Regions from separate parts of the Homo sapiens genome. Here regions 2, 3, 4, 5, 6 and 7 are each linked to region 1. The links come from fine-mapping of genetic effects on gene expression. A gene starts in region 1. Each other region holds a variant in brackets. All regions are shown on one strand. Distances are from middle to middle. Region 1 holds the start of XYLT1 (xylosyltransferase 1). Region 2 overlaps XYLT1 (xylosyltransferase 1). Region 3 overlaps LOC107984893 (a long non-coding RNA gene). Region 4 overlaps XYLT1 (xylosyltransferase 1). Region 5 overlaps XYLT1 (xylosyltransferase 1). Region 6 overlaps XYLT1 (xylosyltransferase 1). Region 7 has its middle 79 kb from the start of XYLT1.

The links. PIP is the estimated chance that this variant, and not a neighbour inherited with it, causes the effect.
Region 2: its variant is fine-mapped to the expression of XYLT1 in whole blood (INTERVAL, PIP above 0.99).
Region 3: its variant is fine-mapped to the expression of XYLT1 in whole blood (TOPMed, PIP 0.97).
Region 4: its variant is fine-mapped to the expression of XYLT1 in whole blood (TOPMed, PIP above 0.99).
Region 5: its variant is fine-mapped to the expression of XYLT1 in whole blood (INTERVAL, PIP above 0.99).
Region 6: its variant is fine-mapped to the expression of XYLT1 in whole blood (TOPMed, PIP above 0.99).
Region 7: its variant is fine-mapped to the expression of XYLT1 in whole blood (TOPMed, PIP above 0.99).

What each region holds. Positions count from the first base shown.
Region 1 is chr16:17,468,804-17,473,387 of GRCh38, reverse strand. XYLT1 (xylosyltransferase 1) reads left to right here and starts at 2,428. Exons shown (of 12, transcript NM_022166.4): 1 at 2,428-2,954. The coding sequence starts at 2,592. It overlaps LOC107987234 (a long non-coding RNA gene), which reads left to right and starts at 2,961. Exons shown (of 2, transcript XR_001752091.2): 1 at 2,961-4,584. LOC105371106 (a long non-coding RNA gene) reads left to right here. Exons shown (of 3, transcript XR_933144.3): 3 at 1,284-2,381. RefSeq lists enhancers at 1,933-2,434, 3,209-3,258, 3,379-3,648.
Region 2 is chr16:17,438,538-17,442,537 of GRCh38, reverse strand. All of the region lies in intron 1 of XYLT1 (xylosyltransferase 1), which reads left to right. Among named protein-coding and RNA genes, the nearest start is that of XYLT1, 30 kb to the left of the region's middle. The variant C/T (reference allele first, on the strand shown) is at 2,295.
Region 3 is chr16:17,945,679-17,950,262 of GRCh38, reverse strand. All of the region lies in intron 3 of LOC107984893 (a long non-coding RNA gene), which reads left to right. Among named protein-coding and RNA genes, the nearest start is that of NPIPA8, 390 kb to the left of the region's middle. The variant C/T (reference allele first, on the strand shown) is at 2,567.
Region 4 is chr16:17,336,994-17,340,993 of GRCh38, reverse strand. All of the region lies in intron 2 of XYLT1 (xylosyltransferase 1), which reads left to right. Among named protein-coding and RNA genes, the nearest start is that of XYLT1, 130 kb to the left of the region's middle. The variant A/G (reference allele first, on the strand shown) is at 2,424.
Region 5 is chr16:17,369,440-17,373,439 of GRCh38, reverse strand. All of the region lies in intron 1 of XYLT1 (xylosyltransferase 1), which reads left to right. Among named protein-coding and RNA genes, the nearest start is that of XYLT1, 100 kb to the left of the region's middle. RefSeq lists an enhancer at 3,765-3,854. The variant G/A (reference allele first, on the strand shown) is at 2,383.
Region 6 is chr16:17,446,747-17,450,746 of GRCh38, reverse strand. The region is part of intron 1 of XYLT1 (xylosyltransferase 1); the gene reads left to right. Among named protein-coding and RNA genes, the nearest start is that of XYLT1, 22 kb to the left of the region's middle. The variant G/A (reference allele first, on the strand shown) is at 1,609.
Region 7 is chr16:17,547,525-17,551,816 of GRCh38, reverse strand. No RefSeq gene overlaps it. Among named protein-coding and RNA genes, the nearest start is that of XYLT1, 79 kb to the right of the region's middle. The variant G/A (reference allele first, on the strand shown) is at 2,175.

The DNA of each region.
Region 1 (4,584 bases):
ATGGTGAAACCTCGTCTGTACTAAAAAAAAAATTAGCTGGGCGTGGTGGCACATGCCTGTAATCCCAGCTACTCGGGAGGCTGAGGCATGAGAATTACTTGAACCCAAGAGGCAGAGGTTGGAGTGAGCTGAGATCACACCACTGCACTCCAGGCTGGGTGATGGAGTGAGACTGTGTCAAAAAAAAAAAAAAAAAAAAGACTTAAAAGATAGACTTAAGTCTTATTACTGTTAGTAATAGATGTTATTGCTTGTAAACAAAATATCCCCAACTGATAAACAGATGACTGGTGGCCCTAGAAACTTGCCTCTGGTCTTTTACTCCTGGTTAGGGGTGCTGGGCCCAAAGGGAAGGCCTCTATGCCAGGCTACATGCCTGGCTAAGCTTTAGATACAACTAAGGTTGATTGGTTTGGAGTTTACAACCCCCACTAGCATACATTTTATACTTTTCTTGTTCAGGCAAGTGGACTGGCTAATTACATGGGTTCAGAAAGCATTTTTTCTTGGCGCTTACTCCCGTCCTGCCCTCATGAACCCTTAGCATTTTTGCACATCTCTACAGCAATGCTTATCTCACCATATATATATATATAATATTATATATATTTACATATAAATATATATATTATATATATGTTATATATTATATATTATATATATTATATGTACATATATATAAATATATTATATATAATATATTTATTATATACATTATATATAATATATATATATACAATATATATATATTTATATATACGTTTTTTAGATGGAGTCTTGCTCTGTAACCCAGGCTGGAGTGCAGTGGTGTGATCTCGGCTCACTGCAGCCTCTGCCTCCTGGGTTCAAGAGATTCTCCTGCCTCAGCCTCCTGAGTAGCTGGGATCAGGGGTGTGTGCCACCATGCCCGGCTAATTTTTGTATTTTTAGTAGAGACGGGGTTTCACCATGTTGGCAAGGCTGATCTCGAACTTCTGACCTCAGGTGATCCTCCTGTCTTGGCCTCCCAAAGTGCTGCGATTACAGGCATGAGCCACCGCGCCCAGGCCTATCTCACTATATTTTAATGATTAACATCCACATCAGGCTTCTCTAGACCTCAGGCTTGCTGAAGATGAGATTAAACCTCATTCACCTTTGGATGCGTGCACCTGGCCCAGTGTCTGACACAAGCTTTGTATTCACGGATGCTTGTGGAGTGGATGAAACAATCTCTTCCCACTCCCTGCCTCATTGTCTGATGAGCCTTCATTACACTCCACTTTCTTCTCTTTGTAAATTAGGATGAGGTGAAAAAGCACAGCAGACAAGATGCGAAGCATTCACGCCAAGTCCTCAATTCACAAACTGATTTGATCTGCTGTTGTATTCCCAGAGTGCTAGGTCCCGTATGGGACACCAACGCCATCCCATATGCTCACTGTTCTGCGCTGCTGTGTATAAAGCCCTGGGCAAGAGGACAAGGGAGGGAAAAACCAGAAAGACTGAGTCAGAGAAGGCTCGGGATGAAATTTGAGTCCATTGGGATCATTCTGCCTAAACGACAGAGGAGAAAGCTTGGGCTCAGGGAGGAGTCCTCCTCCTCCTGGCTCAAGGTCACCGGGACAGACCAGTCAGGATGGGAAAGAACTCCACTTTCAAGAGCAAGACCTGTTTCCCCAGGACCTGGGCCCTGTGCAGACAGGAAGGGGGACTTCAGGATGGATGGGGAAAAGGACACGCTGGGAGGCTGCGGGGCCAGCCTTTGGGGCTTGCATCCTGCGAAGGTTGAGTAACTCCACGGGTCTCCCTTTTGCCGCTATACCACTTGCCAACTGGGTTTGGAGTCTCTTGGCTTGTGAGTCCTCAGGGACCAGAGAAGTGACTCAGTGAACACTTAGTACATCGTTGGCACCGGGGATTGTGTGTGATTCAGGAGTCACTCACAGAGCTTGTGCTGATTAACTCCAGAAACTCACCCAAAGCCTCCTCCCCACCCCTTCAAGCCCAGGATGAAGGGATCAGACTGTGGCTCTGACACTCCTGAAATGTTTCTCACGTGTCCACCTGCCAACCGGTCTGGTACCGACAGAAGATCCCTGGACCGCGAACTCCGGGGCTAGGAGCTTCCTCCACGCACTGCCTCCTTCCAGCGGCCCACAGGGAAAACAGGACCTCGGGACCCCCTCTCTTCCTGACCTCCCCTGGATTCTGAGCGGGCCCACCCTCAACCAAAGGTCCCCTGTTTCGCGGCCCCTGCCTCTCTTTTTCCGCCTTGGGAATTGTCCCCCTCGCCCCCCATCCTACTCCCACTACGTCCTGAGGGGTGTCTGTCTTCTCTGATCGCCCCCACCCCCTTCCTTTCCCTCCTCCTTTTCCTCCCTCGGCTCCTCCCCCAGGCCCCGCCCTCTCCGCCTCGGCCCGCGTCCCCCCGGCGCCTTCCCCATCACCCTCCCCTCCAGCGGGGACAGGGGTGTGGGGAGGGGGGCGGCGGCGGCGGCCCGAGCGGGAGCCCGAGCGGCAGCCGGCGGCCGCGGGAGCTGCGGGGAGCGCGGGGGCGGCCCGGAGCGTGCCGGGGTCCCCGCGCCTCGCTCGCCGGCCGCGCTCCGAAGATGGTGGCGGCGCCGTGCGCCCGGAGGCTGGCCCGGCGCTCGCACTCGGCGCTGCTCGCGGCGCTCACGGTGCTGCTGCTGCAGACGCTGGTCGTGTGGAATTTCAGCAGCCTCGACTCCGGGGCCGGGGAGCGCCGCGGGGGCGCAGCGGTCGGCGGCGGGGAGCAGCCGCCCCCGGCCCCGGCCCCGCGCCGGGAGCGCCGGGACCTGCCCGCCGAGCCGGCTGCAGCCCGAGGAGGAGGAGGAGGCGGCGGCGGAGGAGGAGGAGGACGGGGGCCCCAGGCGCGGGCGCGGGGAGGCGGCCCCGGAGAACCGCGGGGACAGCAGCCGGCCAGCCGGGGGGCACTGCCCGCCCGGGCTCTGGTAAGATGCCCTTTCGGCTCGCGCCCCGCGGCGAGGGAGGGAGGAAGGCAGCCCGACCCCACGCCCCCCTAGCCCTTGAACTCGGTCATCAGACTGGGACTCTGCAAGCCTACCGACTCCACATCGCCTCTTGCCCCGGGAAGCCGGGTGGGGTCCCTGCCAAGGCTCAGGGGTCGTGGGCTGCCCCTTTCAGAGTCTGAGCACGGACCCCTTGGGGTCTGGGGGAAGTTTTCTCCAGCGGGGGCGCTTTGGGGGTTACCGGAGCCTGGCTGGGTTCCTGTTCCCCATCACTCTTGCTGGGGACCCCAGGTGACTTGCTCCGTGCGTGTAGGTCTTGGTGACTCGCTCCCTGCCTGAGTGAGTGGATCTCCCCGGATCCTCAGCCGCTGTTCCTGGGCGGTTGTCGCAGCAGCATCTCTCTGGTTTTTGCCGAGCTGGGTGCAGACAGTTGAGCCCTCTGTTCGTCCTGGCCTGCGATGAGGGCTGAGCTGGGCGTCCCAAGTCCCCGACCATGCCCCTGAATCAATACTCAGTCCGGGGTGTCTGGTCTTACTTTGGGTCTTCTGTTTCTCTTCTCTGGATGTTTGAGCCTTCCGTCTTCACCTTCTCTGTCTCTAACCTTGCCGTCTCCCATGCCCTCTGTGACTTTATCTCCTCCCCATCTCCAGTTTCAGGGCATGGCTCCTTCTCCTAGCTGGTTGTCTCTGTCTTTCTGTCTTGTTGCGGCCGGTTCAGGTCACCAGCTGTGTGTCCGACCACACCGTCAGGGCTTCCACTCCTATGGGATTACTTTGCCCTTCGTGGGTGTGAACAGTCAGGGCTCTGAAACTGTTTTTTCCGCAGATCTGGGGCCATCTGGGTGGCTGGGTGGGGAACTGACTTGTCTTCCTACCCTGTCCCTAACTTCTCCAGGGATACCTTTCCCACCTTCTCTGGGCTGCCTTGCCCAGCCTACTGAGCTAGGAGCAGGAGCACATGGGGCAGGAGGCCGGAGTCCCCATTTCAGAGCCAAGGTCTCAGTTCTCCAGGGGCGTGAGTTCTGCCTTAGGGCATAGCCAATGTGTTGTGTGTCTGTCTGTTTCTTCATCACACTACTTGTCTGCAAGGATTTGCCTAGCCGTTAAAGGATATTAGACACCAGGGGGATGGTTTCAGGATCCTGAAGACTGAATGCATATTTCTATCATTTGTCACTTTGGAAGTCCTCACTGAAGACTGCCTTAGTACACAGCGTGATGCTTTCTGAGCTGCTAAACTTCTTCGGAGTCTGTGCGACCCTTTCTGCCGGAGTGCAGCTCTTCATGCCTGAGAACTGAGCCAGTCCCAAGACGTGATGTGATGGCATTTCACGTTGCTGTGTGGGTAGCAGGGAGAAGTCTTTCCCTCATTTGCGGGGAGAATAGTGGCGTGAGCTGCCTGACGGAGAACCAGAACATTCCTAGTGTCCTGCGATCTCTTCTTTACAGAGAGGGGTACTCTGAAACGCTGCCTTTGAACTCTTGGAGTTGATAGTGATGGGTTCCCGCAGAAATGCAATTAGAAGTTCTTTGTGCATCCAGAGCCCAGGAGGTGGGGTGGGAGGGTTGTGGGTCGTGTCCTGCTGGTCCAGTGTAAGAACGTGTAGGGGAGA
Region 2 (4,000 bases), 31 kb after region 1:
AACTTAAATATGTGGGGCAATATGTGGTGTTAATCTCATTCAGAACCGCCCTCACAGACACCCCAGAAGAATGACCAAATATCTGGGCACCCCATAACCCAGTCAAGTTGACACCTAAAATTAACCATCATGGAGGTGGGGGGTAGGTGGGCAAAAATCACTTTAACACTTTTGATTCTGATCTGCAATGAGTTGTAAGCTCTGCACTATCAATTTGATAACAGCTTTTTTAGTCAGGGTTCTCCAGAGAAACAACCAATGGGATGTATATGAGACACACGCATACAGTTTCATTATAAGGAATTGGCTCATACAAGTATGATGGCTGAGAAGTCCCAAGGCCTGCGGTGGCAAGCTGGGTCCCAGGAGGGCCAGAGTGTTGTTCCAGTCTGAAAACCAGCAGTCTCAAGATCTGGGAAGGGCCAATGTTTTCATCTGAACTCAAAGGCAGGAAAAGACAGGTTTCCCAGCTCAAGAAGCCAGGCAGAGGAGCTCACCATACATGGGGGTGGATCAGCCACCAGTGCAAATGTTAATCTCAACCAGAAATATCCTCAAAGACACCCCAGAAGAATGTCTGACTGACTATCTGGGTACTCTGTGGCCACATCAAGTTGATACATTAAATTAACCATCACAGAAGGGGATGGCAAAAATAACTTTAACGCTTTGACGTTTAAGCTCTGGAAGCTCATTTTTGGGTCACGTGTGGAGGGTTATTGTAGAGAGCTGGATCTTTATCCTCCTTTTGATAATGATCCTATCTTTATCCTCAGCCATTATCTGACACTTAGTGTTGCTGAGGATTTCCTGAGGGAGACTTAATCTTATTCAAGATCTGTTCTTGCGATTGCTACTTAGAGTACCTGCTATTTAAAAAAATCATCCAAGAATTTGAAATTTAAGGCAGGACTTTAAGGAATTAAAACAAGAGTCCAAAGTCCCAATTCCCTTGAGGCCAGGAGAAGTAAGTTGGTACTCTAGGACAGGTGCAGGGCGATAGGGAATGGTGAGGACTTTGGTGGACAGAAGAGCAGAGGCAGTGGACTGTTGCTTCTTGGCTCCACTGCCTGTGACTGTAAGAGAATCAGGCCCAGGGTTATCCATTCTTTCAGGTATTAAAAGCAACCGGAAATTTCCTTTTTTTTAGTGCAATATTTAATAAATATTAACAACTAATTCAGTTTTGTGTTTTTTTCAGTAACACCCTGTGTGGCCAAACAAAACATTTCAGTGAGCTGGATTTATCATAAAGGTCTCTATATAACCACTTATGAATTAAATTATGATAGTGATAATAACAATAAATGATAATTTTTCCTGTCGTCCCAGCTACTCGAGAGGCTGAGGCAGGAGAATCGCTTGAACCTGGGAGGCGTTCTGTCGCCCAGGCTGGAGTGCGGAGGCATGAGCTGAGGCACTCCAGCCTGGGTGACAAAGCAAGAATACATCTCAAAAAAATTAATGATAATTTTGACAAAATATGTAACATTTGTTTGTTTTATTGTGTGCCTGGCACTACTCTGAGTCCTTAACTATATTATCTCATTCAGCCATCAGAACATAGGTAGGCACTGGTTATGCCCGTTTTACAGATGAGGGTCGGTACCATGCTCACAGCCACGCCATTAGTAAGTGTTGGAACTTAGCTTTTCTCGTTCAGCCACCTTTGCTTTAGATTTCTATGCAGTGCTGACTCCCCTGACCCAAAGTGTGAAACTTACCCCTACTGGACTTCTCCAGCCTGGGTTATTATAGATCGTAGCAGAGAGCAGTAGTCCATGGAGAATATTACACTAGGAAGCTTATATTTTATTTAGGCAACCATAAACCATGCTAATCACATTCAAATACAAATGCATCTATTCCTTTCATTGACATGTGAAGTGGAACTTAGTATCCAGATTCTGCAGATGAACGGATAAGATTCCATTTCTATTTCAAGGCCACACAGTTCATTAGGGGCAGAGGGGGCACTGGAACTCAGGTCCACAGGCCTCTAAGGCTCATGGTCTGCTACTTGTTCATGTAATTAAGATCAAAGAACGAGAAAGAGCTGATAGAAATGGCTGACATTGAATGCAGTTGTGCTGACTGTAATTATGTGTGTATGTGTACATGAAAATTCTCATCCAGGAAGTCATTCTGATACTTACCACTTATTGTTTGCCTGTATGGGTGAGCAAGCAGCGTGCTCTGGTTCAGTGCATCTCTTGAATCTTTGCTTTCTCAATGAATATGTGTTAATTAGAAAATGTTATGAAGGTTATCAGTTCATTCTGCATTCATGTTGA[C/T]GGCCAGATCTTTGGTCTCATCTGAAAGTTCTACTGGGGAGGATTTGCTTCCAAATTCACTTACGTAGTTGTTAGCTGGCCTCAGTTTTGCATGGGCTGTTGCACCAAGGGCCCCAGTTCCTTCCTTGCTGGCTGTTAGCTGGAAGCCTCTTACAGGTCCTAACCATAGGGAAGCTCACAACATGACAGTTGGATTCCCCAAAAGCCAAGGATCTAAGAGAGAATATGGGAGAGACAGCACCTAAGATGCACCTAATACGCTGCAGTCTTTTTAGAACCAAACCTTGAATGTGGAATACCATCACTTCTGTATTTTTTCTGTTTATTAGAAGTGAGTGACTAAATCTGGCTCACATTCCGGATGGATTTGGGTGGGAGTGGGGATACTGGAGTGGGTATCCTTGGGGCCATCTTAGGAGCTGCCTACTACAGGTACCTTGGCACAATTTAAATGACATTGAATCTTATAGGAAGTGGTTGAGTCAAAGAGGAAGTCTCGGTTTGTTGTTAGCACATCTTTATCACCTTTCTAAAACTTGTCAGTTTCCCTTTTTAACAATGGAAAGCAGACATTCAGAACCTACTACTACAGTGTTTTCTAGCCGGATTACAACAGTACCATTCCTCCTTTCTTTTCTTTCTTTTCACATTATCTTCTGTTTAGGGCTTGTGTCAACTCATTTTTCATTTGGGATGCAGGTATAAGTTTCTCTTTTAAATATATTCAAATAAACATTGCATAAATAATAGCACACAATACATGCAGATATGGCAAAATTATGTCGGTCTTTGGAAGGATGACTGTAATTTAGGGAGCCGCTCTTTTCCACTATCCAACAAGAAGTGACTGTTTCTCTGGGAGCGGCTGGTTTTATCTGGTTTCTGATGAGGTTCTAGAGGGTAGCAAAAAATCTTTCACCCATCTGTCCGTCAACTTTGTTTGGGGATAACTGGAACTCTGTGTGACCAATTCTGAGGCTGCATCTGAGTTTAAAGGCAAAGTTCTGCAATCAACTAGCCATGTCCACCATGGATGCAGGAGGAAGAAATTGTGCCACGTATGCCATGTGCCTGCCATACTTGATCTAAATCATTGCTTCACTAACTTTTAGCCACTATGATGATGACAATGATTTGATAACAGCTTAAATTTCTGTATTTACCAGAATTTACCAATATTTCTGTATTGCACTCATCCTTATGACAACTCTTTAATTTCAATGATCAGATCTAATTTATAAATGAGAAAACAGACATGGAGGTGTACTGACTCATACAAGATCACCTAGTAAGTGAGCTGTTGAGCTTGGATGCTGATATGGTTTGGCTCTGTGTCCCCACCCAAATCTCATGTTGAATTGTAATTCCCAGTGTTGAGGGAGGGGCCTGGTGGGAGGTGATTGGATCATGGGGGCGGACTTTCCCCTTACTGTTCTCGTGATAATGAGTGAGTTCTCATGAGATCTGATGGTTTCGAAGTGTGTAGCACCTCCCCCTTCACTCTCTCTCTCCTGCCACCATATGCTTGCTTCCCCTTCACCTTCTGCCATGATTGTAAGTCTTCTGAAGCCTCCTAGCCATGCGTCCTGTACAGCCTGTGGAACTGAGTCAATTAAATCTCTTTTCTTCATAAATTATCCAGTCTCAAGTTGTTCTTTCTAGGGATGCGGGAATGAACTGATACAGATGTGAACGCTGGTAGTCTG
Region 3 (4,584 bases), 480 kb before region 1:
CAGTGTTCTTAACACTCCTTTTTGAGATGTTCAGTGTTTTCTGAAACCTTCAGCTGCGTTTTGGATCTCCAACAGGGACTTGCACATTATTTCCCCAAATATCACTGAGGTCAGCGTCTGCAAATCAGAGTCTCCTGGAAACATTTACAGTGAGATTAGAAAAGGAATTGAACGAGGTTAGGTGGTCTCTGTTGGGCCTGAAAATGTAACATGCAGAGTGGGAAATTAAAACAGGGTCTTTGGGGAGAGAAAAGAGGGAGAGGAAAAACCCGGCTTCTCTTATCTTCCTGTCACATGTGAACTCTGTCATTGGAGCTTCCGTTTTTGATAAGCTCAGTGTGTCTTATCACAGCCTTTGACACATGCATTGATCATTTCTTAAACTGTGCCCACAGAGGCATTTTCCTTCCTCTCTCTGGACAGCTCTCCCTTTGCCTTTCCTTCCCTCCCCCTTTGCCTTTCCTTCCCTCCCCCTTTATTTGTTGACACTGATGTTGCATGCAGAGAAGGTTGCTTTCAAAAATACATCTTTTTAATAACTTGTCTCCTAGGAGAGAGGGGTACATCTATGCTTGGGTGGGTTGCTAAGAAAAATCCTGCACTGCTGTCTAACATCTCCTCCTGTCACGGGGAGCGTTTGACAAAGAAAAATGGGCCGGCCTTGCGTTTGGTGCTGATCCCCGGCACAGTCACTGATTCTGGATTGCAGATTCCAGCGGTGGAAGGCACTGTTAAGACAGCCCAGTTGCAATTTGGGCATTCCACAGAAGTCTTTAAAGCAACACTGATGAGCCAAACAAAAACCCATATTGCAGTTGTTGGTTTTTTTCCCCCCCAAGAAATTAAAAATCCTAGTCAAACACATCCAGCTAGCCGGTGCCTTATCACCAGGCAGGGAGGTAGCTTGAAAAAAAAATTTCCGATTACTCCCAGCTCGTGTGAGAGATTCTGAAAGCAGCACATTACCATTCTATAACAGGAAAGCATACATACAATTCAATTTTATGCACTTCAGGCTTGGGAGTGTTTAGTACTTAGTCTAATTGATCAGGTGGAATGGGAAGGCTCTGGGAGCTAATTATCTTCCACATTGGAAACCCTTTATTGCTTGGATGACCTTTTTGGAAAATCAGGGACAAGTAATGGCCCTTCTCAGATTTTTGCTGGAAGAATACTGTGGCCAAAAACATCAAGAATAAGAGAAATGTCTTTCCATGGAAGCACCAATGATACCATTTGCTGTTTCTGTCTTTTTATGTGGTTACTGCTTAATATCCACAGACCGTTTTATGTTTACCAAGTCATTTTGCATTGTCTATTTAGAGATTTTAAGTATTCCTTTTTTTTTTTTTTTTTTTTGAGATGGAGTCTTGCTCTGTCACCAGGCAGGAGTGCAGTGGCGTGATCTCAGCTGACTACAACTGCCGCCTCCTGGGTTCAAGCAATTCTCCTGCCTCAACCTCCTGAGTAGCTGGGACTACAGGAGCGCACCACCACGTCCAGCTAATTTTTGTATTTTTAGTAAAGATGGGGTTTCACCATGTTGGCCAGGATGATCTTGATCTCTTGACCTCGTGATCTGCCTGCCTCGGCCTCCCAAAGTGCTGGGATTCCTGAGATCTCAGTAGTACGGGGATTGATGCCTCCGTTTTATGGATGAACAGGGAATTTGTCTAATCACACAGCTGGCGGTTGGCTGACTTGTGAATTCAACTCAGGTTGTTCAAATTATTTTGTAGAAAAATCTCAACATTTGTTTTTCTTTAGGGGTGGATATCAATTTTACATTTTACAGGCAACTTTGTTTATGAAAGTCATCAGAATGGGCCTTTGGATATAAGGCCCAGTTGTAAAGAAAATGACTAGTGTTCCTCGAGAAAACCAAGTACAGTCATGGATGGCTGCGCAGGTTGCTCACTGCACAATGGTGACATTGAAGCCCAGCCCTTGCTCTCTTTGCCCAGCCTTGCATCCCAGTGTGGGTGGGGCATCTTCACCCAGAGAAGGGACCACTTTAATTTTAACAGAAGCACCTGCCGAGAGGAGGTGCTGTTTTCTAATTTGCACATGGGTGCCATATGAGCTCTTAGTAATCTTTGTCAATATTAAATGCAGAAGCTACAGCCTGAAATACTCAGAGTTCTATTTAATGATGAAAAATGAGATTATGTTTAGCAGGACTGTGCCTTTGTGGAGTTAGAGGAAACTTGCTACTCTCTCAAATTGGATTTCGGTTGAATGATACCTGAAGCTTACTTGCTTGCGAGAAGTCTGGGTTTCTTTTTCCAAAAGTTTGTTTATAGTTGATCAGGGGAACAGAGTCTTGCTGAGAGGGAAATATAATCAGACCTGATGTCTCCATTTTAGGCTGGAAAAAGGACTTTGAACTTGAGTTAGACTAGTCTTGGCATAGCCCTTAGGGTAGTGAATGAACCATGCTTTTAGAAGTACTCTGTAGATGTTTTGAATGCCTTGTCTGTACCTTGGAGGATGAAGACCATTGTGTGGTTGGAGTGGGGGTGTCTTCTGAAGAAAGGGTCTGTTCCTATGGCCATCCATCCTGATA[C/T]GGGAAATAAGACCTTGGGCTGAGAGAGGAAGGAACTTCTTTTTACATCTGGGTCTAGGGAGATTAAGGACCTAAATTTTTAGAGTTTCCATTGGAGAGGCAGTAACTCCAGTGACAGCGATGAGTTTCTCTCTGTGAAAAATTTTGAAGTCCCCAACTGTTTGATAAAGGTTTGTTAAATATTATGGTCTGGGATACTTAGACCTGCTTGAAAGGGGGATTAATAGAAGGGTTTCTCTCCAAGCTTGGAGTATAGAGTGGGCACACAGATGATTGCGTAAATATGCTCAAATATATTACTCTAAAGTCTATTCCCAAAGCCCTTTGACCCTTACAAAGGGAATGTCAGACAGAGGCTCTTGCCAAAATCTTCCTCTTAATGTTGACATAGCAGGGAGGCATCATATTGCAGATAAGTAAGTCTGGTTTAAACATTAGTTCTGTAACTTGCAGGTAAGTTATTAGCTTTCTCAGTTGCCTTTTCTGACATAAGCATGTTCATCTTTACTTCAAAGATTTGGGATGAGGCTAATCTTTGAGAAAGGGCCCTTGCACCAGCCACACAGAGGTGCTAAGAAAAACGTTAGCTCCCTCCTTGTTAGAAAAAGAAGCGCTTTCAAGATTAAAAAAAAAAAAAGATTTCTGGGTGTCCCTTTAGTTACTTACACCAAGAAGGCATAATTCTGACTCCATCTAGATCAGGGGCTGACAGACATTTTCTGCAAAGGGCCACAGAGTGCATATTCTCTGCTTTGTGGGCCGTACAGTTTCTGTCATACCAACTCAGCTCTGCCATAGTAGCATGAAAACCCTAGACAACGTATATACAAATTGGGCATGGCTGTGTTTCAACAAGATTATATTTATGAAAACAGGTAGGAGGCTGGTTTGGCCTTTGGGATGTGGTTTGCAGACCTCTGATCTGAACAGTGTTCACTTAAACTCTCTGCGCAGTTATAAGCTTTGTCCACCCTCCTATTCTCCTCTCTGTAAATGGTTTTTGTTTTCTGCCCCTTTTCTCTCTATGGGCAATGCACACAGTCATTTCTCAATAAATGAGGGTGCCGAGGAGACGCCTAATTTTCAAATAAAATGACTGAGAAAACACTGAGAGAACAGAGAGGATCGATGGCTAAGCCCACACACACAGCACAGCAGAAGCAGAGCTGGCATAGCACACCCTCCCCTGTCCCTTCCCCACAGTCCATCTCTTTATTTAACTCACTGACCCATTTTGCCCTCTTGGAAATCAGCTGGATTTGAAATGGCACCTTTAGCATATTTTTACATCTTTTTGCCCTACTTTTCCACGTTCATCCATGGATGGTAGAAAGTTTTCAAATTAAGTGTCACTGTTCAAAGTCAAAAATTAATTAATTAGCCAGTGGCCAGACATGTGCGGTGCCCGGAATGCTTATCAGTCTGCCTCAAAAGCTTTGCTAATTAGAATGAAGTCAGAGTGGAACCAGGCAGATCAAAGAGCCCAATCTCTCTCCCTTAGAACTTCTCTCGCATTGGTCCTGGAATTCTAATCAATTCCACCATTTAAATAAATTCTATGGGCTGGGTCTTGTTTTGTCCAGGGTACAGAGTGAAATTAGGGATTCATCACAAGTGTTTTCAGTTTGCAAATTCCTCCATATGGGGGATATCCTTCAATAGAAAATACCTCAATGCCTCCTTCAAAACACAGGTAGGTGTTTCATGGTTAGGTACTTTATGCAGCTTGCTCAACTTTCCCAACTATGATGACAAACCTGGTTCTTGAAACTTTACTTCCAAAGCTGATTGCTCAGCACCTTCATTTGGACAAGCGTAGGGCTGAGAAAATAGCCTGATAGGTATCTTTTGTAGGTTAATACGATTTTATTTCATCCATCCGTGATAGCACATTTTATAAACAACTTTATTGAGGTGTAGTTTACCTACCACAAGATTCACCCATTTTAAGTGTGCAATTTAATTTTTAGTTAATTTGCTGAGTTATGCAGCCATCACCACAATTCAGCTTTAGAATA
Region 4 (4,000 bases), 130 kb after region 1:
TAATCTTCGACAAACCAATGAGTAAAAACAGTATCTTGCTGCCTTGATTTGAATTTTAGATATGAGTGGATCTAAGCATTTTTTTACATGGGGTATTTGTGAATTCCATAGCTCCATTTTTCAGGATTCTGGGTCCTAATGTTCTGATTGTCTGCCTCCTTGGAGGAAATGATGGATAATGATGGCTAAAAATTGTTGAGCATTTACTATGTGCCAGCCCCTGTGCTAAGTGCAGTGCATGGATTAACTCAGTCTTCCCATAAGGAAGATTCTCTTTAATCTCCCCATAAACCTGTGTAAGTGAGGTATGGTTGTTATGCCCTCTTTCAAATAGCAAAACTGAGGCACAGAGAGGAAAGGGTTAACTGAGTCACCCAAGGTCATATAGAGAGTGAGTGGGGAGCTGGTCTTTGGACCTACGCAGAACTCTTAACTACCATTCTGTGCAGTTTGTGTAATTGGTAATGGTGGCGATTGTTCTTTAAGATTTAACCATTCTGTGATACCTCGAAAGCAGAAAACCAAAATGTTCCTGGGTAAGGAAATGATCTGAACACAGGCATGGCGCTCTGCCTGAGCTTGGGGCCCCAGCCCATGTGGTGGCAGCTGGAGACAGAGCTCTGTGTTCAGCCTGTGAAAGACAGCTGAGCTGCAGGCACATTCTGTGACATGCCCACGGCCATACAAGGAAATAGTATCACCTCTTTCCACAGTGAGTCACTTTTCCTTCTTAGGGAGTCTCCAGTTGAGCTGCAGAACTGGATCTGGGAAACCAACTGCAGAGGTGTCAACTGTTAGAACTGTAGATTGAATCAGATGGATGGATATATGTTGGATGGAGGGATGGGCGGATGGATAGAGGGATGAGTGGATACAGGATGGGTGGGTGGATGGGTGGGCAGATGGATAGAGAGGTGAGTGGGTAGATAAATGAGTGGATAATAGATGGGTGGACGAATGGGTGGATGGATAGAGGGATGGGTGGATGGATAGAGGGATGGGTGGACAAGGGGTGATGGATGCATCATGGATGGATGTATGATGGAGGGATAGATGATGGATGGAGGATGGATGAATGGATGGATGGATAGGTGATGGATGGATGATGATGGATACACAGATGGAAGGGAGAAAAGACGGAAGGAGGGAAGGAAGGAAGAAGGAAGGAGGGAAAAAAGGATAGATAGATAAAATATCTCAGTTCATTTTTTAAAAATTCCTATTGTATACTAACCACTGCTTTAGGTGCTGGGGATTGGAAGATGAAGGACCTGGTGCCCTGCCACCAGTGAGCTCACTGTCTACAGCAGGATAGTGTCACCTTCTCTGTGTTGTAAATCCCTTCGGAATCTGGTCAAAATTATGCTCCCCTTCTCTGAATATTTTCAAATGCAAAAAAATGCAGAGGATTAAAAAGGAAAGTGGTTATATTGAAGTACAGCCGTCAAAGTATATATAAAAATCAGAAAACTGTGGAGTAATAATACATTTGCTTCTTTATTAACACATTAAAGTAGATTTGGCATCAGGTCTAATAACTACCCTAATTTTGAAGTAATGACAAGTATAAACAATATTTGGAGACATCTGCCACCAAAGCAATGTGACATGAAAATATCTGCAATTTCTGTTGGTGTCAAAGTCTCGGGTGTTGCTAATACTACTGCAGTCTGTTGCCTATATTCATAATTGAAGGTCATGCTAAATTTCAGTTAGAGTTAGTGAAAATAATTATGAATATGTACAAGTTCATCAGCGGGTATGTACAAGTTCGAAGACCCCCAGAATTCTCTCTCCATAGATCCCCAAACTCACAGATTCCAGAAAAATGACTCTGGGCTAGATGGAGAGAGAAATCATAGCAAGATGTTCATCACAGGGTATATACTCACAGAGTCAAGTGGTGCACAGGATTCCACATTATTTAAATGATTTGTGTCACCATCTATCTCTCTCTTTTTTCCCTCCTGACTGTTTATAGTTGAATTTTTGTAAGATAGATTTCTGATGTTTCTCCCTTGCGGAGTGTTATCAGTTCTGTGATCATGTAGGAGTGGGCAGTATAACCTAGAACACTCCTGGAAGGCTTCCTGGAGGAGCTGTTGCCCACAGCATGACCTTAACGGGTGAATGATAATCCCAGCACTTTGGGAGGCCGAAGTGGGTGGATCACCTGAAGTCAGGAGTTTAAGACCAGCCTGACCAATATGGTGAAAGCCCGTCTCTACTAAAAATGCAAAAATTAGTTAGTTGTGGTGGTGGGCACCTGTAGTCCCAGCTACTTTGGAAGCTGAGACGGGAGCATTGCTTGAACTAACTGCACTCCAGCCTGGGCAACAGAGCGAGACTCCGTCCCAAAAAAAAGGGTGAATGTGAGCAGGCCACGAATGACCAGGATAAGGGGACACGAAAGACCATTCCCG[A/G]CAGAGAACAGAGATGAAAATATTGAGCCTTGTCAGAAAATCACAAGAAATACAATATTCATGGAGCACAAGGCTCCTCTTCCTTTATAAAGTCTTTCCAGCCAGCCCGGCAAAGCGTAGGTTTCAACTTCTCCTTTGTTGCAGCCTTTTCCAAAGTGTCAGATGTAAAAGAGAGGAGCAGGCCTTGGCAGGGGATGGGACTGATAAGGCAGGCACAGGCCCAGGTACTGTAGACCACATCAGGGAGCTTCAGATGTATCGTGTAGGTAATGGGGAGCCACTGAAGATGTTTGAGGAGCAGAAGAGCATGGTCCAAGATCAGTTTGAGATGATCACTCTGGCTGCTTCGTGGGGAATGGATTGCAGAAGTGAGCCTAGAGGCAAGGAATCAGAAAAGGGGACATTCAGTTCAGGGGAGTTATGATAAAGGCCTGAACTGGGACAGGGAAAGTGGGAAAGGAAAGGAGGGGACAGATTTGAGGGCCATTAAAATGTAGAACGGGGGCCGGGTGCGGTGGCTCACGCCTATAATCCCAGCACTTTGGGAGGCCGAGGTGGGTGAGGTCAGGAGTTCAAGACCAGCCTGGCCAACATGGCGAAACCCCGTTTCTACTAAAAATACAAAAATTAGCCGGACGTGGTGGCGCATGCCTGTAATCACAGCTACTCGGGAGGCTGAGAAGAATCACTTGAACCCTGGAGACAGAAGCTGGAGTGAGCCGAGATGGCGTCACTGCGCTCCAGCCTGGGTGACAGAGCAAGACTCTGTCTCACAAAAAAAAAAAAAAAGAAAAAGAAAAAATGTGGAACAGACAAAGTAGGACTCAGGAAAAAATAAGATCGGGAATGTGTGAATAGGGCAAGTTTGGAGAGAAGAAGGAATTCTCGGAGACAAGGGTTTGTGGTCCCACAACCTCTTGTGATGTTTTTAAGGAGCAGGTGGCTAGGGAGAGATCTAAGGAACCTCCCACACCATTTTCCCAGGTAACCAAGGTAGGCTTCCCTGGATTTAGCAACGTGAAGTCCTGCACCCAAGGAGCTTGGGCTGAATTGCAATGCTGCAAGTTCAATTAAAGGTTCTCAGGAGGCCGGGCATGGTGGCTCACGCCTGTAATCCTAGCACTTTGGGAGGCTGAGGCTGGCCAATCGCTTGAGCCCTAGAGTTTGAGACCAGCCTGGGCAATGCAGTGAGACCCCCTCTCATCTCTATAAAAAATTAGCTGGGTGTGGTGGCATGTGCTTATAGTTCCAGCTACCTGGGAGGCTGAAGTGGGAGGCTGGCTTGAACCCAGGAGGTGGAGGCTACAATGAGCCATGACTGCACCACTGCACTTTAGCCTGGGTGACAGAGTAAGACCCTGTCTCAAAGAAAAAAGATTCTCAGGAAGTCAGTGTTACCACCTTTGCAGACCACTGTCTCCCTGCACTGAACAAAGGCAAAAAATTGTGAGAATTTAACCACTTAAAAAAACCCAAAAAACCCACCCTGTACTTTGTAGGGATTTATATGCCTTTCTGGGGCTGAATAATATTTTTTTGTTCAGAGCCACAGTTGGGGTTACATACGATCTTACAAA
Region 5 (4,000 bases), 100 kb after region 1:
CTGAAGCCTCAGTTTCCTCATCTATAAAATGGGGCCAGCATTATCTTCCCCACAGAGTTGGTGTGAGCATTCAAAAAGCAGCCTCTCAAGCCTAGGTTGAGGCACATAGTAGGTGCCTGATGAACGTCAGTGGCCCGAGCACTGTAGACGCTGATTACTGGTTTCTCAGACGCCACAACTTGGGATGCCAGAGCTTTTGCTTGGGATCTGAGAAGCTGGACTGTGAATATGGATTCCAACAACAGCCCTTCAGAGAGCATTCTGCTTCTCTGTGATTTAAAACGAAACAAAACAAAAAATAATATTGGATGATCCAAGGTGCTGGTTTTATATGGCAGCTAATGAGATAGCAGGGCAAGTAACTGGAGAATGTATTGCTAACAGGCACAATAAATATAGCTATGATTATATATTAGCAGCCCTCAAATGGCCCATAATGCAGTGAGTACATGTGAGGTCAAGAACGTGTTAGAAAACAGATGTTTGTTGTTAGTCCTTATAGACCACACTTTTTAAAAGAAATACGTATTTGATGATTTATTATGATCAGACATTGTTGTAAGTGCTTTACAGATATTCGGTGAATCCTAATAACAGGCCTGGGAAGTAGGTATATGTCATTATTATTATTCCTACTTCGCATATGAGGAAACTGAGGCACCAAGATCTCAAGTAATTTGCTCAAGTTCAAACGGAAAATAATTGAGCCGGCATTTGTACACAGAGACTCTGATACAAGTTTCCATGTTCTTAGCCACTATTCTATGCTGAAGTCACACGGAAGAAGATAATGAATGGAAACGGATAATTGAATGCAAAATACCCACTTTCTCTTAAAAATGGGCCAGACCAGCTGTCCTTGGTCCTGAATTCGACAGGCCTTACCATTAATGGAACTTGTTCTTGAACATTAGCATTGGGAGAGTTGTAGTCCTCACACTGATGGAAGCTATCTAATGTATTCTGTCTGCCATTGACACTGTGCCCCTCTAACACCCTTTCCCCTAAACTGATTTTCTTTTACCATGTTGGAATGTGAGTAGTTTACTGTACCTGCTGAAAGCAAGGTCTTAATTAGCCTTAATTTTTGAAGTCTGCAGCTGTAAAATGTGTTGAAAAGATTGAAAAGATTAGTGCACTAGTAATAAGATAATTGTCCCTGAGAAATGCTGTTAGCATGTAAACACAGTTAGCATGTGAAATCAGAACAACTGTAATATTTCCCTCGTTTGGTGTTTAAAGATGCTCCTGCGTGAATAATTATAACTAAATGCAAAGTGCAGAGATGGGATGCTGCATGTTTTTCCTGTTATTCTTTCCTGCTTCTATCCCAGCTCAGAAGTAAAACTCTTAGTGGAATCTTGTCTGAAGCTAGCCTCCCCTCCCCCACAGCCATTTGAAATTAGTACCAAGAATGGGGCAACTTAGAACAGAGGGAATTCCAAAATTAGGGATACTCAGCAAACAAAATCTACAGATCCCATAGCAACTTTTTTTGGGGGGGTGTTGAATGAAAGAGACCACACATGCATACCTGTATGTGCATGTGGATGCTCACATATGTGTGTGTACACACATGCATATTCACACACATACACTCTCTCTTTCTTTCTCTCTGTCTCTTAATAAACAGAGCTGGAGAAAACTAGCCATGGCTATACACAGCAGAAGCAGATGTGATAAACCTCATTTTACCTTTTTAGACCTAGAAAGGTTGCAGTAAAATATGCTGCACCTGCCACCACATGAGGTCCTTCCTTCCTTCTGTGGAGTTTTTGCATCCTTTGATAAGTTGGAACATACTTCAATTTTATGAAATTAGTACGTATAGTACCTTCCTAACAGACCATAGCTCATCAGATATGCTACATATCCTATAAAGACTAACCTTTCTGCTTCCTCATCTCAGACATTAGCCAATCAGTAGGTTGAGCTTGTCTCCTTCTGCTGTGTCATTTATACCCCAAACTCTTCTTTATAGGGAGGACTTGCCTTGACTTACAGTCAGGAAAACATCCTACAGCTCAGAAGTTGGCTGAGTTCTCAGCATACATCTCTCAGATTCCACCTATAACATGAATTGGGTTTCCGTTGATTTTGGTTCAGCAAGAATTTACCAAGTGCTTTCTATGTGGCAGTCTTAGGACTTCATTAAGCATAAAAACAAAGAAGATAGTCCCTGGTCCTGGGGAAGTGGGACAAGTTGTCAAAAGTATGTAGCAGGGGCTGATGAGAAGACAGGACTCTCACCCCTATCCATGGGAGTCAACTTTGCTCTCTGCCTTGTATTCCTGGGTGTGCATTCATAGGTGCTTCTTGAGTTAAATTATTCTTGGACTTTGCAGCCACGTTACTTTACAACCTGTCTATGGTTCATATCCC[G/A]TCCTTCTCTCTAACCTCAGGTCCTCCAGCTGAAAGTGCTGGGCTTAGCTTAGGATCCACTAAACCAGAGATTACAAACACCAATGCCCACAGCAGCCACACTGGCAGCCGTAAGTGAAGGACATGTGTCTGGGGCGGGGACTGTGGCAAGCAGGAGGGCCTGTGACCCTTCTAAGGGAGATAGCTGCTTTCCAGTGCCAGAAAGGCAGTGCCTTAGGAAAATGCTGGATTTGTGTAGCTAGGTCTTCTGATTTTTCCAAAAAATGCCAGAACTTTGCAGTTTTATGGGAAACCTCCTGAATGTGAAGTATTGGCATCCTATGTAGGTTTTTGTTGTTCTTTTTAAAACATTGTGCAGGCTGAACAAACTATGCCTGAGCTGAATACTGCTTGTAGATTCCAGTTTCTGTTGGCCACCTCTGCAGTCAGCCCATGAAGATCGTGTTCTCAAAGTGCTGGCTAAACAGAGGCCACTGCTGAGTCACTAGGGTTGCTTCCCACCACTTCATGAACGTGTTCAGTGTGAGACCACACACTTTACCTTGCATCTTGTTTCTCCAGCTCTTTCTCATCCTGCCCTCCCCGCAGATGTCTCAATGAAGTCCCTGGGAAAGTAACACTTACTCTCCTGAATACAGCCTACAGTTCCACCAAGCGTGGCATGCATGTGAGCGAGGGTCCCCCAACCCCGCCCCACTGCAGAAGGCGTAGAAATGAAAGCGGATCGTTGTAAGCTTTGGATCCGCCAAATGGGACTTAGCACAGCGTCGTCTCCTGCGTGTTGATTATCAACTTGCTTGGGGGATCTCAGGCTCTTGCCTGACCTTGGCATGAGGTCTGGCAAATTTGGCTTTCTGGGTGTAGAATTGATCGTTTCAGAAACAAAGCCATTGAGACAGAGTTAAGGAGAGTCCTCTATTCACGGATGAAAGGAGCTCATTGTATAAAATTGGTGTGACCTGGACCCCCTTCCTCTGGCCCCCTCCTGTTGTTCCCTTCCCCCACAGCTGGGGCTTTGTAAGGGTCTCGCAGGATGTTCTATCCCAGGCCATACTTTCTTCCCATCTTCCTGTCTCTGAGGCTGCCCCGAACAGAAGGAGAGCTGGGCTTGGAGCCCCTTTGCACGTTTTTGGCTCCTCGGGCCAACTCTGTTGTCGTGGGTGATGAGAGCACTTCCTTCCGAGAGAGCTAGGAGAAAAACAGCCAGGCTGTTCACAGGCAGCTGCCCAAGGCGGCTGTGCAGGAAGAGAAAACAGTGGGTGCTAAGAACCTCTTCCTGTTCTGCCTTCTGCACGGGCACCTCCCTTCTGGGTCACGGCCCTGAAAAGTCAAGACTGTTGAGCTAGAGGAAGATGGTCCTGTGTGTATTAACCTCAGTGCTCAACTTCCTGATGGATTATTTGAGTTTTTCTGTTTCTGCTGTGAAGTCACGGGATCCCGAATTTTTCTTCTTGAGGTTGGCGGGTGAGGGTTGGAGTCATGTTCATGGGGTAACATGGTACCTTCCTTTGTGGGGGAGGGGTAAGGTATGGTGGTGAACAGATAGGAAGGTCATAAACTTAGATGCTTTCAGGGCTCAGCCCAGGTGGGCAGGGTGGGGTTGTGGCAAACAGAAGGG
Region 6 (4,000 bases), 22 kb after region 1:
TGTCTTAGTCTGTTTACGACGCAAGACAAAGTGATCTCGACTTTCAGGAGTCAGGATACCTGGATTCCAGAACCTGTTCTGTGTCTTGCTTGGTGTGGCTTTGGGCTGCCTGCCTTTCAGGTTCTCTGTTTCCCCGTCTTTAAAATGGTCTGAGGGATTCTGGGTCCCTTGTGCTCTGAACTTTTAGGTCTCTTGTGGTTACCTGTGCCCTGATTGCACATGTCTCTTCTTCCAGCCGTGTGTGTGACCCACGTGTCCTTTCCCACTTCCATGTGTACGTGGCTGTTTTGGTGTGATTGTCTGCAGAAAAGAGTCCTTTCCTCCCAGTACCTCCCACTTCTACCTAACAATAAACTCTAGAATCCTTCTCACCTTTTTTTTTTTGTTTGTTTGTTTGTTTGTTTGTTTTGAGACGGAGTCTCGCTCTGTTGCCCAGATTGGAGTGCAGTGGCGCAATCTCAGCTCACTGCAACCTCTGCCTCCTGGGTTCAAGCGATTCTCCTGCCTCAGCCTCCTGAGTAGCTGGGATTACAGGCGCCTGCCACCATGCCTGGCTAATTTTTGTATTTTTAGTAGAGGTGGGGTTTCACCATGTTGGCCAGGCTGGTCTTGAACTCCTGACCTCAAGTGATCTGCCTGCCTCCACCTCCCAAAGTGCTGGATTACAGGTGTGAGCCACCACTCCCGGTCCTTCTCACCTTTTATTAGTAACTGCCATCACCATCATAGCTGGTCTTGGATTCATTAACTCCATCAGGTTATTCCCAGTGGTGGAAACAGTGAATGGCACACAATAGGTGCTCAGTAAATATTTTTGTTTCCTTCAGAAATTGCCTGAAAGATCAGATGAGATGTCTTAAAAGTGAGAGCTATGGAACCCCACTTTAAGATGACATTTTAAGATCCAAAGGCCAAAGATATTCTAGAACAAGGAATCATGCCTTGTTCCATGGGTTCTTGTCAGCTCCTCACCCATACTGATGGCACCTTAAGGTCCACCTGTGTTCTTAGTAGTTGATGCATAGTCCTGTTGATGATGATAAATAATAGTAATTAGCAGCTACCATTTATTAAGCACATACTACATGTTAGGCGTTTTATATTTAATGCTTCCAACACCTAGTGTTGTCAGCATTGTCAGAGTCACTGTTTTATGGACAGAGGAAGTGAGGCACAGAGAGGGGAAGTAACTCTCGCAAGGTTGCACAGCTCCCCACAAGCCCGTGTGCATAACCACCACGTCACTTGATGCTAAGTCCCGTTGATGGGACTGAAGACCAGCCAGACAGGGGAGGCGCCCTCTTCCAGGTGCTGGGCCTGCCCCGTCCCCGCAGCCCATAGGGGAAGTGTCCACAGCTGCAGGCCTGGCAGACACCCAATCTTCTCCTACCCTCTCCAGGGGCTGCTGTTCTCCATGCCCGTGGAATTGCTGAGATCCTGCAGACAGCAGTGAGAAGCTGGCTACTGTCGTCAGAGCCTTTCCCCAGGATGGGGCTGCAGATTTGGCCCCAGCCCTCCTTTGGCCTGCTCAGCTGGCCTGGGGCAGCAGGAGAGAGTGGAAGAGAGGCATGAACTTGCTTTCATCAGAGGGAGCCCAGGGCATGCTCT[G/A]TGGGTTCAGAGGAACTTCCTTGGGCGTGTGGGTGAGACCAGGCATGGCATGACACTTATATGCCACTTCCTTCTCCACCAAAACGTCCCTCTTTGTCTCAGTTGGTGGAATGAAGTGCAATGCAGTAGAGAAGCACGGGGACTTGGCGCCAAGGTGCCGGAGTTCGCAGCCTGGCTCTGCCACCCAGCAGCTGTGTGACTGAAGTCTTTGTGCCTCAGCTCCTTCATCTGTAAAATGGGGATGATGATGAACCCACTTCAAAGGGTTGTCAGGAGAAATAAATGAGTTAATACATGCACCTCATTTAGCACAGTGTCTGGGCCTGTATTAAGCACCATAACATGCTGCTGCTGCTGCTTCCTCCTCCTCTTCCTCTTCCTCTGCCCTCCTCCTCCTCCACCCTCCTCCCCTTCCCCCTCTTCCTCCTCCCCCCTCTTCCTCCTCCCCCCTCCACCTCCCCTCACCCTCATCTTCCATTATTATTATTACTGTTGATTCTTGTAGGAGGAGGAGGAATTGGATGAGGGAGATTTGCCTGGTCAACTCTGCCTCTTCCTCTCCCTCCTTCCTCTGGAGCTGTGTGGGGACTAGATTGTGTTGCTGGCTGTGTGGCCTGCGGTCAGTCACATAGCTTCTCTGTATGCATTTTCCCACCTAAAATGAATACAGCAATTGTAATAATGATAATAATGATAATATGCTTCATTTTAAGATGCACATTTTTTACTGTGTCGCCCAGGCTCACAGCCATTTTATTTTATTTTATTTTTGAGACAGAGTCTTGCTCTGTCTGCGCCCAGGCTGGAGTGCAGTGGCGCAATCTCGGCTCACTGCAACCTCCGCCTCCCGGGTTCAAGCAATTCTGCCTCAGCCTCCCAAGTAGCTGGGATTTTAGGCATGTGCCATCACGCCTGGCTAATTTTTGTATTTTTAGTAGAGATGGGGTTTCACTATGTTGGCCAGGCTGGTCTTGAACTCCTGACCTCAAGTGATCCACCCGCCTTGGCCTCCCAGAGTGGTGGGATTACAGGTGTGAGCCACCACATCTGGCCAAAGATACACATTTTTAATATTTAGTAAATAGCCTTTCTGAAATCTGGGATGAATTTTACAATTGATGTGTATGTTTCCTTAATGTTTCAGCACACACCCTTTTGCCCCAAATTGTTATTCAATCAATGATGCATGTCACAAGCGACAGGGTCTTACAATGAAGCACAGAGGCCACAATGTCCACAATGTGCCAAGCAAGGTACTGGGTGTTTTTTAAATGCCTCATTTTTTAAAACTCTTACTGCAGCCCCAGAAGTAGTACTCATATTCTCCCATTTTACAAATGTGGACATTGAGGCTTAGAGGGTGAAAAGTGGCTTTCGTGGAAGGTCGCTTGTTCACACAGCAGAGCTGCTATCCAACCACCCTCCATGGGTCTTACGACATAGGCTGAAACTCTTTTTCCAAGAGCATCCCATAAGCACCTCTCTCCTTCTCCCTGGGATGTAGGAATATGTTCCTAAAGACAGCTTCAAGCTTCTAGGATGGAAATGCTAGTGGTAGTCTTAAAATATGAGCCCCTGCCAAGTTCCAAATGTCTTTGACCCATGAACTCAGCAGCAGGACGGCATGTCTGGGAGACCCTCCCAAGTCATGCTTTGTGCAGGACACAATGTTTTCGGAGCTTAAAGCGTTTTATAAAATAATGTGGGATTTGTCCCAGAGCCTGGCACAGGGTCTAGAATGCTTGAGTCCTGTTTTCCAGTTGGATTAAACTAAGGTCAGACATTCTGCCCCAAGCCTGAAATGTATCACGTGGGCTGGGAGCAGCCCCTGGCTGTCAGGTCCCTCCCAGGCTACAGGCACCCAGGGGACTTCCCATCTGTCTCTCTGTCCTGTGTTGAGAGTGATAGTGGTTGGTGGGCATTGGGAGGGTCTTAGGGAAGAGAGGAAATAAATAGCAGGCCGCTTGGTTTAGAGCAGGGCTGTTGGGCAGAGTCCAGAAATTATCTTGCTAACAGTGACAGTCTATGAGTTGGTGGGGAAGCGAGGTCGTGAATAATTGATTGCTGCTAACTGAGTTGTGAAAACCATTTTCGGAGATTCGAATGTGGAGGCTCTCCGAAGGAGGGAGGGATGGAGGGGAGGAGGGGGTGGGTGGGAGAGTAGACAGGGATGAGAGCGTCCTCTTCCCTTGAGTCCAGAGGTCCCTCTTGGGCTCCCCTGGGTCTGGTTCAGCGAGTTTGGCTGCAGTCCCCCGCACTTGAAAATGGCCTTGGCTGACCCTGGGCCCTGAGAAGGGAGCAGCGGGTGGCCTCAGCTCTGGTTGGGTTGGGCTGTTCCCCGCTGAGGGTTGGTTGAGTCTCCAGGCTGAGTGGGAGTCCCCAGACTTTCACC
Region 7 (4,292 bases), 79 kb before region 1:
CATTGACTCTTCTGGTTATGTGAAGTTTTCCTTTTTGCTCTTGCCCTTGTGTTTGAAAGGATTTTCAGAGAACTTGAGTCCACCGTCTTTTTCTGTCAGTAGCAACTAGCAGGGAGCGGAAGATTGGGTGAGTTTGGAAGGTACCCAGCATCACAGTGCTCAGGCTGATGGCTGCTGTCACCACACACGGCAGGACAAGGACACGCAGCAGATTGCTTGTTCAGTGTGACAAAGATGGACCCAGGGACATTTGTACATTTACAAAATGTAATAGTGTGTAGCCAGTAAAAATAGTGTTAGATGGCAAGTGAGGCTGTTATGAGTTACACCGAGTCTCCCCCATCAAAAAAAAAAGATATGTCCTCTGGGTGTGGTGCCTCACACCTGTAATCCCAGCACTTTGAGAGGCTGAGGTGGGCGGATCACAAAGTCAGCAGTTCAAGACCAGCCTGACCAACATGGTGAAATCCCTTCTCTACTAAAAAAAAAAAAAAAAAAAAAAAAAATTTGCCAGGCCTTGTGGTGTGTGTCTGTAGCCCCAGCTACTCAGGGGGCTGAGGCAGAATTGCCTGAACCCAGCAGGTGGAGGTTGCAGTGAGCTGAGATCGTGCCACTGCACTCCAGCCTGGATGACAAGGCGAGACTCCATCTCAAAAAAAAAAAAAGTCGAAGTTGTGAACCCCAAAAATTTGAGACAGGCCTCAGTTAATTTTGAAAGTGTATTTTACCAAGGTTGAGGACGTGCCCGTGACACAGCCTCAGGCAGTCCTGACGACATGTGCCCAGGCTGGTCGGGGCACAGCTTGGTTTTATACATTTTAGGGAGACGTGAGACATCAGTCAATATATGTAAGAAGTACGTTGGTTCTGTCCAGAAAGGCGGGGACAAAGGGACAACTCAAATCAGGGAGGGGGCTTCCAGGTCACAGGTAGGTGAGAGACAAATGGTTGCATCCTTTCGAGTTTCTGATAAGCCTTTCCAAAGGAGGCAATCAGAATATGTATCTATCTCAGTGAGCACAGAGATGACTTTGAATAAAATGGGAGGCAGGTTTGCCCTCAGCAGTTTCCAGCTTGAATTTTCCTTTTAGCTTAGCGATTTTGGGGGCCCAAGGTACTTTCCTTTCACAAAGTCCTAACCCCTAGTACTTCAAAATGTGACCTTCCTTGGAAATAGGGTGGCTGCAGATGTTTAGTGAAGACGAGATATTTCTGGAGTAAGGTGGGCCCCTAGTCCAATATGAAAGGTGTATTAGGGTTCTCTTAGAGGGACAGAACTAATAGGATATGTGTGTGTATATATATATATATATATAATTGATGGACGTTTGGGTTGTTTCCACCTTTTGGCCTTTATAACTAGTGCTGTCATGAACATTTTTGTAAGAGTATTCGTTTGAACACTTGTTTTCAATTCCTTTGGGCATCTACTTGGGAGCAGAATTGCTAGGCTCTGTGATCATTCTTTAACTTTTTGAGATATATATATACATACACACACACATATATACACACACATATATATACACATATAAATATATATAAAGGGGAGTTTATTAAATATTAACTTGCACAATCACAAGGTCCCACAATAGGCTGCCTGCAGGCTGAGGAGCAAGGAGAGCTAGTTTGAGTCCCAAAACGGAAGAACTTGGAGTCTGATGCTCGATGGCAGGAAGCATCCAGCACGGGAGAAAGATGTAGGCTGGGAGGCTGGACCAGTCTCTCCTTTTCAAGTTTTTCTGCCTACTTTGTATTCCCTGGAAGCTGATAGATGGTGCCCACCAGATTAAGGGTGGGTCTGCCTTCCCCAGCCCCTTGACTCAAATGTTAATCTTTTTTGGCAGCACCCACACAGACACACCCAGGGTTAATACTTTGTATCCCTCAATCTAATCAAGTTGATATGCAGCATGAACCATCACAAAAGGTGTCCCATGGGAAGACAACCATGTGAGGACAGAGAGCCACAGGGAGAATGTCAAGTGACAAAGGCTGAAACTGGGGTTATGCAACTGTAAGCCAAGGGGCGCCAAAGATTACCAGTGACCACCATAAGCCAGAAAGAGGCCAGGAAGGATTCTCCTATGGGATTTAGAAGGAAGGTGGCCCTGCAAGCACCTTGATTTTGGACTTCTAGCCTCTAAACCTATAATACATGTCTATTGTTTTAA[G/A]CCATTCACTTTGTTTTGGCAGCCCTTGGAAGAAAACACAGAGGCTGTTGATGCTGTATTTCCAACTAAAAAAGCAACTAATAAAGCAGTGTGCAGGCTATGATCCCATTTATAGAAAAGTCGTGATTATGTAATTTTAAATGACAGATCATACAATAAAATAGTAACAGTTATCACTAGATGAAAAAATTGCAGGTTTAAATTTTTGTTCATTTTTAAAGTCTGTTTTCTCACTCTTCAAAATAAATAGATGATAAGTATAATAGGAGAAACAGGTCATGTTTTTGCAAGAGAAATAATTGCACCTGAAAATATGTTCCCCACATAAACATCTTATACCAACAAATGGCATATGGAATTTGCTTCCTAAGGGCTCAGCCTTCAAACGTTCTTTCTCATCCAGATGTGCTCAGACCATGGCTCTGTACTCAGAAAGAAGCAAAGGAAGGGGGATTTATACCCTCTCCTTTTTATAATCAGTACCTCCCCAGTACCATCAGGATGTAATCTACATATGATCTGTCATGACTTAGCCTCCACTGGTATCTCGAGTCTCATTTTCTACTCATAGTGACCCCAGTTGTCAGCTGTCACCACGCCTGCCCACAACCCCTCCACGCACATACCCATGTAGTATTCTGCCTCATTCCTGAAGGGCTCTTGTGGCTTCCCACGTGAAACTCTGCAGTGTCATGCTTTGTGCCTTCACTCACCCTGTTTTCTTTGCTAAGAGTACACTTCCCAGCCAAGTCCCAGGCATCCTTATATCCTCAGCTTAAATACCAATTCCTCCAAGAAGCCCCCCTTGGAGGGCTTACCTCTGCCTTTATTAGACTTTGTCAAGGCCTCCACCCTTACTGTCTTGGCATCTGTGTATCTGCTGTCCCATCCTGGTCACAATTGTCAGCTTTCTTCTCTCCATCCACCACTGTAGTATCAGCTCCAATGAGGGAAGGAAACATTCAGTGGTCATCCCTGCACCCAGATTGACTGGGCCTGGTATTCAGTAGCAGCTCAATAAGTGTCTGTTTCAATTCGCCATTGCAAAAATATGGAACCAGTCCAAATGCCCATCAATCAACAAGTGGATAAATAAATTGTGATATAGAAAGAAATTGTGATATATATACAAGCCATGGAATACTACTCAGCAGTAAAAATGAATGAAATGATGGTATTCACAGCAACCTGGATGGGATTGGAGACCATTATTCTAAGTGAAGTAACTCAGGAATGGAAAACCAAACATTGTATGTTCTCACTCATAAGTGGGAGCTAAGCTATGAGGATGCAAAGGCATAATAATGATACAATGAATTTTGGGGACTCAGGGAAAGGGTGTTGGGGGTGACGGATAAAAGGCTACACATTGGGTACAGTGCACACTGCTTGGGTAATGGGTATACCAAAATCTCAGAAATCACCACTAAAGTATTTATTCGTGTAACCAAACGCTACCTGTTCGCCAAAAATCTATTGAAAAAATTGTAAAAGGTGCCTGTTGAATTGCACAGAAGCCCATGTGATTGAAGGCAATAGGATTGTTGGACTGTGTTATTTAGATGATACATCTTTCAATTTCTGCTTTTGCTCCCTCCAGTCCATCTTCCATATTCCAAAGTAATCATTATAACTTAAATAAGATGAAGCTAGCCCCAGGTTAAAACCCTTACATAAAACCTCATTACTGTTAGAATAAAATTCAAATGTTTGGTCATGGCCTATAGGCCTGCAATGAAAATCCCTGACTTCAGCTCATTAAGTGCTAAAATATTTGTTAATTGATGAAATGGATGGATGGTTGGATGGATGGACAGATGGATGGATGGATGGATGGATGGATGGACGGACGGACGGACGGACGGTCGGACGGACGGACGGATGGATGGATGGATAGAAGGAAAGATGGATAGGAAGATGAATGGATGGACAGACAAACTGATATATCAATGGATTGATGGGTGGATGGGTGGATAGATGGATGAATGAAGGGATGACTTCTTCCTTTCATGTAAGTGTAAATTTATAGAGAGTATAGCTTGGGCATTCATTTGTCTCTCCTTAGAGAAGTGCTTCAGAAACATTCTATAGCAGGAGAAAAGTAGAAAGCACATTTGA